Homo sapiens: one gene and its partner. The protein of the gene in region 1 interacts with the protein of each later gene in a biochemical or structural test. Each region holds a gene or a part of one and is shown on either strand. Other genes may lie near its edges. The genes, in order: MAP4K4 and CTTNBP2NL.

Evidence for each region.
Region 2: the proteins of MAP4K4 (region 1) and CTTNBP2NL form a complex in vitro, tested with the Homo sapiens proteins (one study listed by BioGRID).

The regions. Positions count from the first base shown.
Region 1 is NC_000002.12:101,693,455-101,700,706, reverse strand, and holds the start of MAP4K4 (mitogen-activated protein kinase kinase kinase kinase 4), read right to left. Parts: upstream 3,001-7,252; 5' UTR 2,627-3,000; coding exon 2,570-2,626; intron 2,443-2,569; exon of another isoform or gene 2,265-2,442; coding exon of another isoform or gene 2,235-2,264; coding exon 2,169-2,234; intron 1-2,168.
Region 2 is NC_000001.11:112,412,688-112,420,213, forward strand, and holds part of CTTNBP2NL (CTTNBP2 N-terminal-like protein), read left to right. Parts: intron 1-3,469; 5' UTR 3,470-3,478; coding exon 3,479-3,577; intron 3,578-7,526. UniProt on the Homo sapiens protein: Regulates lamellipodial actin dynamics in a CTTN-dependent manner. Associates with core striatin-interacting phosphatase and kinase (STRIPAK) complex to form CTTNBP2NL-STRIPAK complexes.

The DNA of each region.
Region 1 (7,252 bases):
AACAATGTGATTGTGTAAAAAAGAAACATTCTAAAGTATTTACAGCTGAAATAGCATTTGGGGTTTACATTAAAATAAAGGAGGAAAAGAAGAATACAGATGAGAAAAGATTAGTCATCTGCTGATAAACTGAGCTCTCTAGTCTTTATGTTTGAAATTTTCCATAATAATATAAAAATGTAACTGCTTATGAGCAAAATCTCAGGCACTATTTTGTTCTGGACTGTAGGCAACTTTTGCACAGATTTAATTCCCTAGGTTTGCATAATTAGAGAAATTCTCAACTGTACCGACTTTGTAGTCAGAGAGCTGTGTCATGCCAGTATCCCAAATACCTACCAAACGTAGCTAGCGCTCAGCAAACCTAGTTCAAAAGCTCGGGAAGGTTGCGGGGAATGGAACCAAAATGGCAATGAGGGGAAATAACAATGAACCTGACTAAACTCTTACCATAAACAGCTCCCACCTCTTAAAACCAATAAAGACAAACTGGGGTTTCATTCTTTCCTTTCTCTTAAGGTTTAAAGACTATATCGCCTTCTAGCTTACTTCTCTGCCCTTAACATCCATGCTGACCAAGTAAGACACAAACAATCCAACTACTGTGTAGCCAGGTCAAAAACAAGCTCTGGCTAATTCACTTGGAAGACTACAATCACCATTTAATTTGGCGAGAAAAAACTGGGTTAGAAAAAAAATGACTGGTGCTTAAACAAACAACAGACCGGGGAGAATGTCTTTTAGCCAGTTACCAACCACTCAGTGAGTTGCAACACAATCTTTTCCAAAATTTTCCAAAGCCTTCCAAATTCAGTTGAGCCGGGCAAGCTGAGTTAACGGGGCTCTCTTTCAAATTCAAAAATCTGGCCCCGGCCCGAACAGTTAACCAACAAAACACAAGCTAATACACTTGAGATCACCTAAGAATACTGACCCAAGTTCGGACCACAGTCCAGTACAGTACACTACCCAGGCTAGAAGTCTAGGCTAAGGAGAGGCGTTCAAGTGATAGATAAACTCTACTCACAACGCAGAAAAGAGACAATAAGATCCACACTTAATCTAGCCTAAGAAAAGGTCTACAGTCGGCTTCCAACCCCCCCAACTCCACCCATTTTTAATGAGACAATGACAATTCTTCATGGTGAACCACAGAGCCCTGCTTCCCTAACCTTGTACCGACTCTAACAGAACACTCCCCCAGTGCAGATTAAACTTTTAGAAAACGTTCAGTATTGAGAAACAAATTAAGACAGGAAAAATTTAACATTCCGTTCTGAATTTTCAAGGCCTGCGCCTCCATTCCCTACACATCTTTCATAATCTCTAGACTGTACAATGTATAAAATGAACACTGTTAGTCACATCAGGTGTCAGCTACTCAGCGCAGACTCAGTCTCCAGATTTGCTAGTTTCATTTATCGCTGGGGTGGAGGGTGGGTGTTAAAATTTTGAAAAAAGAGAAAGACCTGGGTGGGTGTAAACCAGGGCATCCTCTATATTCTCTTCGCTCTCTGTCATTTCTGTTTCAATTACACAGCTGTCAAACAGGTTATTCCTGGAATTCAGATTTTATAATCCCCACACTGTAATTCTTCCTGCTGCTGTTGCCCAAACACACACTCCTCCCTGCTTCCCCAAAATACGTATCCATCAATAGAAAGGATGACAACCACAGTTATAAAGTATTCCCAGGTAACGCCAAACTCCCCACCTTGAGCAACTGGCAAGCACTGAGTGGAGGCTGAAACATGATGACAATTTTCACGATGGCCAAAGCAGTGGTTTAGGATCGTCAGAGGCAAGGCCCGCCTCCACTGTATTTCAATTTACACACAAACTCAGAAGGCCGGATTTGGGGAAAAAAAGAAAAAATTCAGGTTGTCTTATTTTTAAAAAATGCTTTTCCATTTTATCGAAGTAAAGTGCATGCCTAAGAGTGTAGCTTATTTCCTTATCTCAAAGCCAGGAAATGAGGTCTTTTAAGGCCAGTCTGAATATAAACTCGGTGTGCAAAAACAGAGGGACTGCAAGGCGAAAGAAACCCCTCTCCCAACTTTGGCCAAGCGGCGTGGCCTCCAGTCAGCAGCATGTTTATCACCCTCTCCTCGTCCCCCAATAAGAAGTTTCCACATGCCACGGGAAACAAAGAAGGCGCCCACACCGACCTTATAGACTTGTCCATAGGTGCCATTTCCAACCACTTCCACCAGCTCAAAAATCCCAGCAGGATCCTGGAGAGGAAGGAGGGGAGGGGTTATCATTTAAAAGAAGCCAAAAAAATGAATAAATCAAGCAAGGCAGTTGGAGAGAAAAGGCGGTGACAAAAGAGGTGGGCTTCGCCCCGCGCGGTCCCCCAGCGCCCGGGGGTCGCGCGGCGGGCTCGGGGCGTGGGGGCGGTAGAGGGTAGCGCCCGCCCCGCACCAGCCCGCACAGGAAGACAAAGGGGCCGCCGCGCCCCGCGGCTCTGCCCACGGCGGCGCCCGAGCGCCCGGCCGACCTGGGCGCGGCCCCGGCTGCCGGCTGCCGGCTGCCCGCTCCCCGCGCGCCCGCTCGCGGGCCCACTCACCCGCAGGGAGGAGAGGTCGATGTCCACCAGACTTTTTGCAGGGGAGTCGTTCGCCATTTTCCCTTTTTGCCACCAAAAAACAAATAACAATAAATGTCTCTGTCGCTCTGTGTATCTCAGCCGCAGACCAGGCCGCCGACCGCGCTCCTCGCGCGGCAGCCGAGCCGGCCCGGTACTCTCCTCGCGGGGCCGCGGGCGGCGGCGGCGGGCTCGGCTGCGCTCTCGGGCCGCTCGGGGCTCTCTGCCGGCCGGGCCGCGCGGAGGGCGGACGGAGCGTGCACGGGCGGCGGCGCTCACACCATGGCGCGGGGCCGGCCGTCAGGCCCCCGGGCGTCGCCCGCCGCCTCAGGCCCCGGCGCCCGCGCCCCGCGCCGCGCGCCTCGAGGACGGGCCCGGAGCGTGGGGCCGCGGCGGCGCCGAGTTGAGCGAGTGAGCGCGAGGCAGCGAGACAAAGATAACCCGGGAGGCGGAGGCGGAGGCGGGGAGCGAGGTGGGGAGGGAGGGGGCGGCGGCGGCGCTGGAGGAGGAGAAACGGGACACCAAAAATATATTCTGAGGAGAGAGAAAACAGCTCCCCCTTTCCTCCTCAGGCAGGAAAAACCGGCGGAAACGCACTCACACCCCGAGCCCTGCCGGGTAGGGCGCGGGCCGAGGCGCCCGCGCGGCGTGAATATTCATCAGGGGTGGGGCTCGAACAATGGCCGCGCCGGCGGGCAGCGCGGGCAGCGGTCCCGACACGACGCCCGGCGCCCAGGGTGCGGCCTCCGCGCTCGACCCCGCACGGCGCTCCCGAAAACTGCAGGAGCGGGGAGGAAGCGGGCTGGGATTTCCCCGGGGAGGAGCTGGGGTGGGGAAACGCCCCTACCTCGCGCTAACAACAAATGACACGAAACTGAGCTGGACCGACACTAAGAGGCCATGGACCCTCGCGTCTCCCAGGGCAAGGGTGTGTCCCGCCGGCCGCGTCCCGGCTCTAGAGGGACCCGAACCCGGTGTTGCCGAGCGGAGGAGGGGCCTCCCTCGATCCTCGCCCCCTCCTCGCCCCATTCGCCCCATCCCCCACTCTCCCACACCCTAGAGAGGAGACCCTTAAGTCCCTCGTTTCCGGCTTCCCTGCACGGTTTTCTTTTCCTTTCTCTGCTTTTGCAGGCTAAATGTGTGGTACGGTTGTGGTTGTAGTTGTGGGATTCGCTGAGCATCGCTGGGCTGCCCGGCCATATCCAAAACAGCTCCTGTAATTGTCTGGCGCTGCGCTCCTGGCTGCGCTCGGTAGGTGAGCACTGTGTTTGGGGCCCTTAGTACCAACCCGCATTTTGTAACCTGGAGATCACTAAGGATCAACCAACAGGTTTCTTCCGGCAACCTCGGAAGCCAGTCGGTAGTTAGGCACTTTAATGCCAGTGAATCAACAGTCATTTATATCGCATTCCTCCACCGTCCAAAAACTTTCAGTGGTTCCCTGTTACCTGACAGGTGTTCTCAAAACGTGAGTGCTTCAGGCAAAGTGCCAATTGCCTGGCCCTGCCTCCCGAGTTCTCGTTTCAGGAGGTCTGCAATGGGCCTGAGAATGTGCATGTGTAAGTTCTCAGTGTAGCTAACGTCGCTGTTACAGGGATCACTCGTTGACAACAGTGGCCTCCGGCTATTCATGATTGGATTTTCATAAACATCACCATCATCATCTACCAATTCTTATGCACATACTGTGTCTCCCCCACACAAACGCGTTGTGCCGAGTGCTTTACACACAGCACTCTATTTACAGCCTTGAAGGAATGTTATCCTCCTTTTAGGTAAGGAAAGCAAAGTACTGAAAGATAAGGAGTATGTCCAAATTCCTTAAAAGCACAGCCTGGAAGTGGAGCAGGGATTTTCACCAGGTTAGCCTGTTCCCAAAATCCAGATCTCTGATTCAGCCAAGTTAGCTCTACCCAGAATATGTATAGCACTATCCTGCTTCCCAACAGTTTGGTTTCTGAAATTTTTGACTATGAGAATCCCTGGTAAGGGTAAAATATATAGAGGGGCTCCTGGTATCCATTTGTAAGGAAAATTATAGTAACCAAGTATTCCTATGAATGTATTGGTGCTTTTAGATAATTTTGGTTTTTGTCAGCAGCAATGTCATTATCTATGAGTGTAAATAAAATAATTTACTCAGAGAACTAGACAGAAACACATCTGAACTTTCAGGCTATCTTACTATTGATAACATTGTTTTTTGTTTGTTTGTTTGTTTTGAGACAGAATCTTGCTCTGTCACCCAAGCTGGAGTGCAGTGGAGTGCTCTCAGCTCACTGCAACCTCTGCCTCCTGGGTTCCAGCAATTCTCCTGCCTCAGCCTCCCCAGTAGCTGGGACTACAGGTGCCTGCCACCATGCCCAGCTAATTTTTTATTTTTAGTAGAGACAGGGTTTCACCATGTTGGCCAGGCTGGTCTCGAACTCCTGACCTCAGGTGATCTGCCCACCTCGGCTTCCCAAAGTGCTGGATTACAGGCATGAGCCACCATACCTGGCCTATTGCTAACATTTTAAGTGTTTATTATTAATAATAGATGATACAACGTGCTAAGTCCTTCACATGTATTATCTCATTATTCTGCTCTTAATTCCAAATGACACTCCATTATTCCCACTTTATATGTTAGAAAACCAGCCCTTAAAAAAGTTAAGTAACTTGCTCACTATGCACAACTAGACCTGATGCAGAAACGCCAGGGCCCCTTCCAAAGCAGCCTCCTTCCACAGATTCAACTCCAAACCCATGACATTGAAGCCCACCTCACACCAACCCTTCCTCTCAATCTATCCAAATTCCTTCATCACCTCAAGCCCAACTCAAAATCATCTCTTCCTTCTCCTACAGGCTTTCTTTAAATCTGTCTCTCTCCTAAGCTGCTATGTCTATATCACCATTGTGACCATTATCTCCCACTTTAGAGTCATTACCTATTCTGGAAGTGCCTACACAGTGCAAGGCGCTGGCTTAGCCATTGCCTGGGATATCAGGAAGATCAAGACAGCCTACCCTCAAAGAGCTTACACACTGATAATAGGCATAAGACAGCTTCACAAATAACCATAGTACAAAGCAGAACAGTGTAGATTTTAGCAAGATGGAAAGAGTACTAAACAGGTCTAGTGGAAAGTATGCTGGATTTGGGCAAAATTGAACTGGGTTTGAACCCTAGTTATTGGTCAGTTGTGCAACCTGGCATGTGTTTCTTCTGAGCCTCCCTTTCCTCCTCTGCATACCAGATGAAGACTGGAAATGAGAAGAACAAGCAAGAGGCAAGAGCCTATGCCAGGGTAATAAAGGGTGACAGGAGATATTAATATAAGAGGTCTTGAGACAGCAGATTCTCTAAGGCTTGGCATCTGATACGATGCCAGAAGGCAGTGTAGAAAAGAAGGTAAGAGATTTGTTTGTGGTTCAGAGCTTGGGAGGATGTCCACACTTGGGAGGATGCTGTCACAACAGAGTAAAGGATGGGAATTACTAAATGGTAGCAATAAAGGAAGATTTAGTTTTGAACCCAAAACCAAAGTTAATTACCTTTTCATGCAGGAGCAGTGTACACATGCCCAGCTTGAAACTCCACTCTAGCGCCCAGCATAGGGGCCATGTTTTCAATCAACACCCATGTATTAGCTTGGGCTGCCATTGCAAAATACTATATAGCCTGGGTGGCTCAAATAACAGAAAATTGTTTTCTTGCAGTTCTGGAGGCTAGAAGTCCAAGATCAGAGTTCTCACCAAATCGATTTCTGGTGAGGGTTCTCTTTCTGGCTAGCAGGCAGCCTCCTTCTTACTATGTTTACACATGGCCTTTCCTCAGCACGCTTGAGGAGAGAGAATGAGTTCTCTGGTGTCTCTTATGAGGCACTAATCCTATCCATCAGGGCCCCACCCTTAAGACCTTGCTTAACCTTAATTACTTCCTTAGAGGCCCTGTCTCCAAACACAGCCACACTAGGGATTCAAGCTTCAACAAATGAATGGAGGGATTGGGGGAGGGGACACAAGTGCTCAGTTCATAAAAAGCTGTGGGTAGTACATGATGCCAGGAGGTAGTCTTGTCACTGCCTTTGTCCTTAATAATCTGTTGAGGACACAAAATAAATCCACCCAAAAGGACAATCAAGGTGATACAGTGGAAAATAAATACCAATTTGACATTTTACATAGGGAGGAAAACAATGTAGCTTGCTTGGACAAAGAATGAGAAGTTAAAAGAATGAGGAGACTGGCCCCACTGGGCAGCGGACTCAGTTCAGAGAACCCTGAGAAATAGAGCAAGATGGCTGGGCACAGTGGCTCACGCCTGTAATCCCAGCACTTTGGGATGCCGAAGCAGGCAGATCACTTGAGCCCAGGAGTTCGAGACCAACCTGGCCAACATGACAAAACCCTATCTCTACTAAAAATACAAAAAATTAGCCAGGCCTGGTGGTGGTTCGCACCTGTAGTCCCAGCTACTTGGGAGGCTGAGGCAAGAAAATCGCTTGAACCCAGAAGGTAGAGGTTGCAGTGAGCCAAGATTGCACCACTACACTGCACTCCAGCCTGGGCGATGGAGCAAGACTCCGTCAAAAAAAAAAAAAAAAAAAAAGGAAGGAAGGAAGGCTGGCCATGCGGGATGGCTCATGCCTATAATCCCAGCACTTTGGGAGGCTGAGG
Region 2 (7,526 bases), on another chromosome or scaffold:
CTCACTGCCATCTCCACCTCCCAGGTTCAAGCGATTCTCCTGCCTCAGCCTCCTGAGTAGCTGGGACTACAGGTGTGCACCACCACGTCTGGCTAATTTTTTTGTATTTTAAGTAGAGACAGGGTTTCACCATGTTGGCCAGGCTGGTCTTAAACTCCTGACCTCAAGTGATCCTCCCACCTCCACCTCCCAAAGTGCTGGGATGGGATTACAGGTGTGGGTAACCATGCCTAGCCGAGTTGGGACATATTAGTGAAATGTTCCAGTTATTAACATTTGTGTGCAGAAGTGATTTATAAACACAGAGATAATAAAAGAATTCTTCTTTGTCATTGACAAGGAATAGAACTTTTTCTTGCCTAGGCTGGACTGTTTTGTAATTAAAGTGACTCTGAAGATTGTTTTAATTTTACTCTTTTATAAGGATGTATATTTATCATAACAGATCAAAGACTTTTTGTTTCATTTTACATATCGAACACTTTAAGTACAATATAATTTAGTTCTTTGTATATGTACCTCTTATTTTTATTTTATTAGAATCTAACAAATAATACTTGGTTTTTACTTAGAAGCTTAAACTAGAACCAAGAAGGACTTCCCAATTGCAAAAGGGCAACTGAAGTTATTTCCGAGGTCATCGATCTTGGCTGTCTGCAGTTTTTGATAGTGCCTTTCTTAAATTCTTTTGAAAAATGAGACAGGATAATAGTTACTAATAATGAAACCAGGTATCAGCAATGTGGTAAGATGTTCTACATTTATTAACTTAATCTTCATAGCAGCCCTATGAGTTAAATATCATCATCCCCCTTTCACAGATTAGAAAACGGAGTCAGATAACTTGCCCAGTCACACAACTAGGAAGATGCAGATGTGGCATCTGACTACCAAGCTACATGTTCTTTCCAATATAACCTCTAATAAAGTGTAGCTTTATTAGGTTTGTTAGAATTTTTTTGTTTAGTTTTGTTTTAGTTTTTATTTTTATTTTTAAAATAAATGTTATCAGATATATCCCTGATACTAAAGTGAACGTCATTTACTAGTTGCTGAAATTCACTTGTTAGAAAATAGAGGCTGGGCGTGGTGGCTCACACCTTTAATCTCAGCACTTTGAGAGGCCAAGGCGGGCGGATCACCTGAGGTCAGGAGTTGGAGACCAGCTTGGCCAACATGGTAAAACCCCATCTCTACTAAAAATACAAAAATTAGCTGGGCATGATGGCATGTGCCTGTAATCCCAGCTACTTGGGAGGCTGAGGCAGGAGAATCGCTGGAACCCGGGAGGCGGAGGTTGCAGTGAGCCAAGACTGCACCATTGCTCTCCAGCCTGGGCAACAAGAGCAAAACTCTGTCTCAAAAAAATAAATAAATAAAAAGAAAAAGAAAAAAAGGCCAGGTGTGGTGGCTCACACCTGTAATCCTAGCACTTTGGGAGACTGAGGTGGGCGGATCACCTGAGGTCAGGAGTTCAAGACCAGCCTTGCCAACATGGTGAAACCCCGTCTCTACTAAAATACAAAAATTAGCCAGGCGTGATGGTGGTTGCCTGTAATCCCAGCTACTCAGAGGCTGAGACTGGAGAAGTACTTGAACCTGGGAGACGGTGGTTGCAGTGAGCCGAAATCACCCCACTGCATTCCAGCCTGGGCAACTGAGTGAGACTCCATCTCAAAAAAAGAAAATTAGCAGTTAGAGCTGAGGTTACATCGAAGATGTTTTACTATGCTTTAAAAGACTTGGACAGCATGTCCTGGAACACAATCTAACAACAAAGTGAAGTATGCATTTTATACATGTTCACTTAAAAGCAGTAGCTCTGGAAGGAATCAATTCTTTTTTTGTGTGCCCCCCAAAATTAAAAAGAGTGATAAATTACTGGAGGATGTGTGAACTGGTCATGTTTTGATTCACTTTCCATAAGAGTGGCAATTTGAAAATAAAAAGTGGAGAGAGAAATATTTGTTCTACTTTGGAAATTATAAAATATATCTTACCATACACACTGGTCAGAAGGCTCTTCCAAGATTGTACAGCAGTCTAACTTGTATCTTTATGTGGTTTGTGAGAATTAGTGTTGTAGAAAGGATTGAGTTTGTGTCATGCAATTTGCCATTTAACATACTTTGGAACATGCAGATTCTCAGAGAAATGTGAACTTACCAAGTCAGATAAATTCAGTTTTTGGTAGCCTAGCCAATTAAGATGTTTAAACAGGCCTGGCACAGTGGCTCATGCCTGTAATCCCAGCACTTTGAAGGCTAAGGTGGGAGGATCACTTGAGCCCAGGAGTTTGAGTCCAGTCTGGGCAACACAGGGAGACCCCATTTCTACAAACAATAAAAAATAAATTAACCAGGCGTGGTGGCATGTATCGGTGATCCTAGCTACTTGGGAGGCTGAGGCGGGAGAATTACTTGAGCCCAGGAGGTTGAGGCTGCAGTGAGCCGTGTTTGCACCACTACACTCCAGCCTGGGTGACAGAGCAAGACCCTGTCTTAAAACAAAAAAAAATAAAGATGTTTAAACCCTATACTTTGAGAATTCATTTAAAAGTAAGTTTGCATATAGTTGAATTAAGTCTATTTTACTATACAAGATATAAATATTGTGTTAGCTATTGTCTGTGAAAGCAGACAATTTAAAAGAAAAATTTCTCCCATACTCCCACCAAACATTATCTCTTTTCCCGAATTTTATTTTAACCAATTGAAGAGGGATATCAGAATGTTTTATATACAGTTTTGGAAATTGGTTATCTAAAACTGGGAAATCTTTTGATGGTCTATCAATTTTTCAGAGAAATGGTATTCATTATAACACAATTTTACCTGAAAAATCAGTGGCTAATTCTTGTTTGCTTTTTTTTTGGTTTTTTTTTTTTGAGACAGAGTCTCACTCTGTCGCCCAGGCTGGAGTACAGTGGCGTGGTCTCGGCTCACTGCAATCTTTGCCTCCCGCGTTCAAGTGATTCCCCTGCCTCAGCCTCCCGAGTAGCTGGGACTACAGGCGTGCCCCACCATGCCCGGCTAATGTTTTGTATTTCAGTAGAGACAGGGTTTTACCATGTTGGCCGGGATGGTCTCGATCTCCTGACTTCGTGGTCCGCCCACCTTAGCCTCCCAAAGTGCTGGGATTACAGGCATGAGCCACTGCACCCAGCCCTAGCGGCTAATTCTTTCTGAGATTTCCTAGGATATTTGTTTGTAAACGTGTCTGGAGGAAATATGATGAAAAATTGATCTTTGTGAGTGGTAGTGAAATCAATAATTAAAGTGAATTTTACTTTCTGTTGTTGCTTAGTTTGTGATTAACACCAGAAAACATATTTCTATTTAATTTCAACTATTTCCTTTATTAAGGCATTTGATACTATAATTGCTCTTATCTCTCACTTTATTTTTTCTTTAATTGTATCAAATTAACTATGTCTTTGGAGATTGTCTGATTGTTACCTTTGTTTCAGGCTTTCAAGATGAATCTGGAAAAACTCAGCAAGCCTGAACTCCTGACACTATTTAGTATTCTTGAAGGAGAGCTTGAAGCAAGGGACCTTGTTATAGAAGCCTTAAAGGTATGTTAAAAGAAAAAAAAAAAGAGGTCATCATACATTGTGAAAGTCATTCATTAGTTTTAATTTATTTAACTAAGGTATTTCTGCAGTTTCCATTGAAATTAAATGGAGGACATACTGATACTTGCCATAGGTAGCCACCTACATTGTGTGTTATTAGGGACACTGGTGAAACCTTTCTGTTTTCAAAATAGTTCCCTTAGTTTCTCGATCTGATGTCTAGACCTTGAACTTCATTCTTTTTTTTTTTTTGAGACGGAGTGTCACTCTGTCGCCAGGCTGGAGTGCAGTGGCGCTATCTCGGCTCACTGCAACTTCTGCCTCCTGCATTCAAGTTCCTGCCCCAGCCTCCTGAGTAGCTGGGACTACAGGCGCACACCACCATGCCCAGCTAATTTTTGTATTTTTAGTAGAGACAGGGTTTCACCATGTTGGCCAGGATGGTCTTGATCTCTTGACCTGGTGATCCGCCCCCGCTTAGCCTCCCAAAGTGCTGAAATTACAGGTGTGAGCCACCACGCCCGGCAGAATTTCATTCTTTTAGTTTAGTGGCCCTTAGCTGTTTTTGAACGCTGACCCCTTTGAGACTTGATAAGAGCAACTTCCTAATAAATGTACATACATCCATATATCAAAATTTGAAATATAATATCTGGGAGATCAAGGATCCCATGAAAACATCCACGGATTCCCTGGACCCCAGATTAAGAATTCTTTTGGTAGTTTTAGCCCATTTCTAATTGTCACTGCTAATTGCCTATTGTTAGTCTCACTTCTTTGCCCCATTTATCATCTGTCTCAATCCCTTCATAATTAGGATAGGAGTGGAGGTAACAGCTGCCTCTAATGGAAAAATCAGAGGATGACCTCGTTTTCTCTTTTATAGTTTTACCGAGATAACCTGTCTGCTTTTCAGCCTTAGAAACTGTACAAACCTGTAGTGCTTTATGTGTCTATTTACTAATCACTGTATCCTCAGCACCCAGCATAGTGCCAGGCATGTAGATGCTCAGTAAATGTTTGTTGAACAAATGAAATGATTGTACCATTGTGGTGTGTTACTTTAAAAGATTACTATAATACTTCTAAGTGGATGTTGTGAATTACTAAATTTTAAAGCCTCTTCTTATGTACTCTGCAGCACATACTGCCTTCTGGTTTTAATGTTAACAGATGCTTAGATGCTTTTTGCACATGTTTTCCTAAAATATATTTTTTTCTTCATGAATCCAATTTTGGTTACTATAGGCAGTTCTGATAAGTTGAGAGAGAAGCTTGAGAAGCAAGAGCTAAAATTAAGGGAGCATTTTGATATAAGATACCATTCAGAATCAGGCACAAGTGTTGTATTTAGTCTGCATATGGTCTGTAGGTGATAAAATTATTCTGAGGCTTAACTCTGTGCAGTTTAGGTGAAATGAATAACTTCACCAGAAGTGACATATCTTTAAACAATCTATTGTTAGATAAAATAGGGGGCAGCCGGGATTAAAATTGTTTCAATCGTTTGAGAAAAGTAACTGCCATAGCATTCTTTAAACTGAAGTATCATTTTATTTATGGAGTTTTGGGGGGTTTTTTGTTGTTATTTGTTTTGGTTCTCCAATGTATCAGGATTTTACTGCATTATTTGTATCGTTTTTGCTTAACAATAAACACCTGTTGGACTTTATGAACTACTATGGCAACTTACCAATTTTCTTCCTTTTAATATTGGTTCTTAATTGATGCTTAGTCGGTTGAAAAGGTTTTGGTCTTTGTTCTAAATAGTTATGATTTGTTTTTCTTTTCTGTTTTGTCTCCAGTAAAAAAAAGCTTATCTTTTTATTTTCTCCCTAGCTTCAAAATAGATTTTTGTCTGGACATAAAATCTGTTCTTTAATCTTATATCTCTAAACAAAACCATATGGCTTACTGTCACTTCTTTGGCAAGGCTTGAGTTTCTTTCAGGATATGTTGTAAAGTTCCCATAGGCTGTAAGTTGACCTCACCTATAGAGTTAGAATTGTAAAAGAGCTACATTCCTATTCCAAAATTTCTGCAAAGTGCCAGATTGCAGCTATACTCTTCTAGAGCCCCCCATAATTACGTTCTTTTTCTTCCCAGAATCCTCCTCACTCACTCTCTATTGCAGCCAAGACATGTTTGGCATAGAACCAGGGAAAGCCAATAGAAAATAATGTAACACATTATTCAGTGTCTTGTATATTTCAAATCTAATTGTTATGGAGGGGACCTATACTATATTTGGTCCTAATTAAATTTTATTTAAAGTGGTTTTCTGTTTTAGAAGGAATCATGTCAGAAAAAAAAAAACTTCTTTATGAACGTCTTTCCCTTTTATTACTTTAATTTCATGAATAAGAACACCAAAGGAATACCCTCTACAATGAAAGCAAATTACATTGCTCATGAACTGTCTGGGGGAAGCAGAGAGTGGAACCACATAGTTCAGCAGGAAAGCCTCAGTTCATTAATTCCAAGCAAATCTAGTAAATGGCTTCCTACCATAGGCTGTGATTGCTTCAGAGGAGAATAAAGGAAGGTTAATCAATGGCCATTTTAAAAAATCTGAAAAATAGATTTGACTGCTAATAAAATTTAGATTAAATAGTTTATTTCTGAATATTCCACATCGGGTATATTACATCTGCACATCTTAGATCTGATGCAAAGCCACACTAAATGGCTTCTGTGACTAAATAGAATCCACCTTGCATTTATTGGTATTGCTTTATTTTAAAGCATTCTTTAAATCATCTATACAATGATAAATGGTGAAATATTACAGCTTTCATGTGCGATTAACTTAAGGAGTCTTGAATTCGTTTCCATTGATGCCTCAATCATAAAATAGGGATATCCTCTTTTAAAACCGAGGATAGAACTTTGTTGTGTTTGGCCAAATGCTGTTGCAAAATCCCCCAAGCAAGAAGATTTACAGGCAAAAATGTTGTAGACATGACAAAGTTAGAAGTATATTTAGAGTATGAGATTATGTAATACATCATTCTATAGGTTTAACTGTTGTGAGTTTTTTCAGCCACAAAGGGTTAAAATGAAAAAATCGAAATGTTATGTCTTTGTTGAAACAAATAATTTACTTTCACTGAAAATATTATTGAAAAAATAATCATAAGGATCTAATGACAGTGCCAAAATATAGAAAACAAAAGTTACCATGGAAGGTGCTGTGGCTTAAGAACATCACAGCTATGATCATATAGTGGTTAGTACTCTGTGTTGTGCCTGCAGCAACCTCAGTTGTATCCAAGTTGTGGCACCAAAAATTAAAAAAAAAATAACAATGCAAGTTCACTATAAGTCCATAGCCTAACATCTGCCTTTGGTCACGGCCTTGTACTTATTATGGAAGCAGATTATTATAAAGACTGGTCTGAAATGAAAAACGTAAAATTGAACTTAGCAATCACCATACATACTAATAAGCCTGTGAAGAGAGTTTGCATTTTTTAAAAAAATCAGATATTAGCTTGCTTGATAACAGATCTTTGAAAGTCTTAAACGGACTCAAGTTGAAACATTCTCTGGCACCCATAAGCCTGGACCTAACAGTTCTTTGGCCAAAAATGATCCCATTTTAATAGATGGTTTTTAGGAAGAGCTTTTAAGATTGGGATGGGTGGTTTCGATCATTGATAAAGATCACATGAACACATGAACATAAGCTATAACTGACAGAAGTCCAATTTCTGTCTAGTTCCCAACTGGGATATTAGGGTGGGAGCAGAACTTTATTTAGGTTACTGAGTTATAAGGTTTTTATATTTACAGTATTCATAACCTTTATTATAAAACGTTAATGAATTAATCAGTGACCATTTGTGGCCACATTTTAATATGTTTTTTAGAGTTGGAGTGGCTTTTTTTTTTTTTTTGAGATGAAGTCTCGCTCTGTTGCCCAGGCTGGAGTGCAATAGCATGGTTT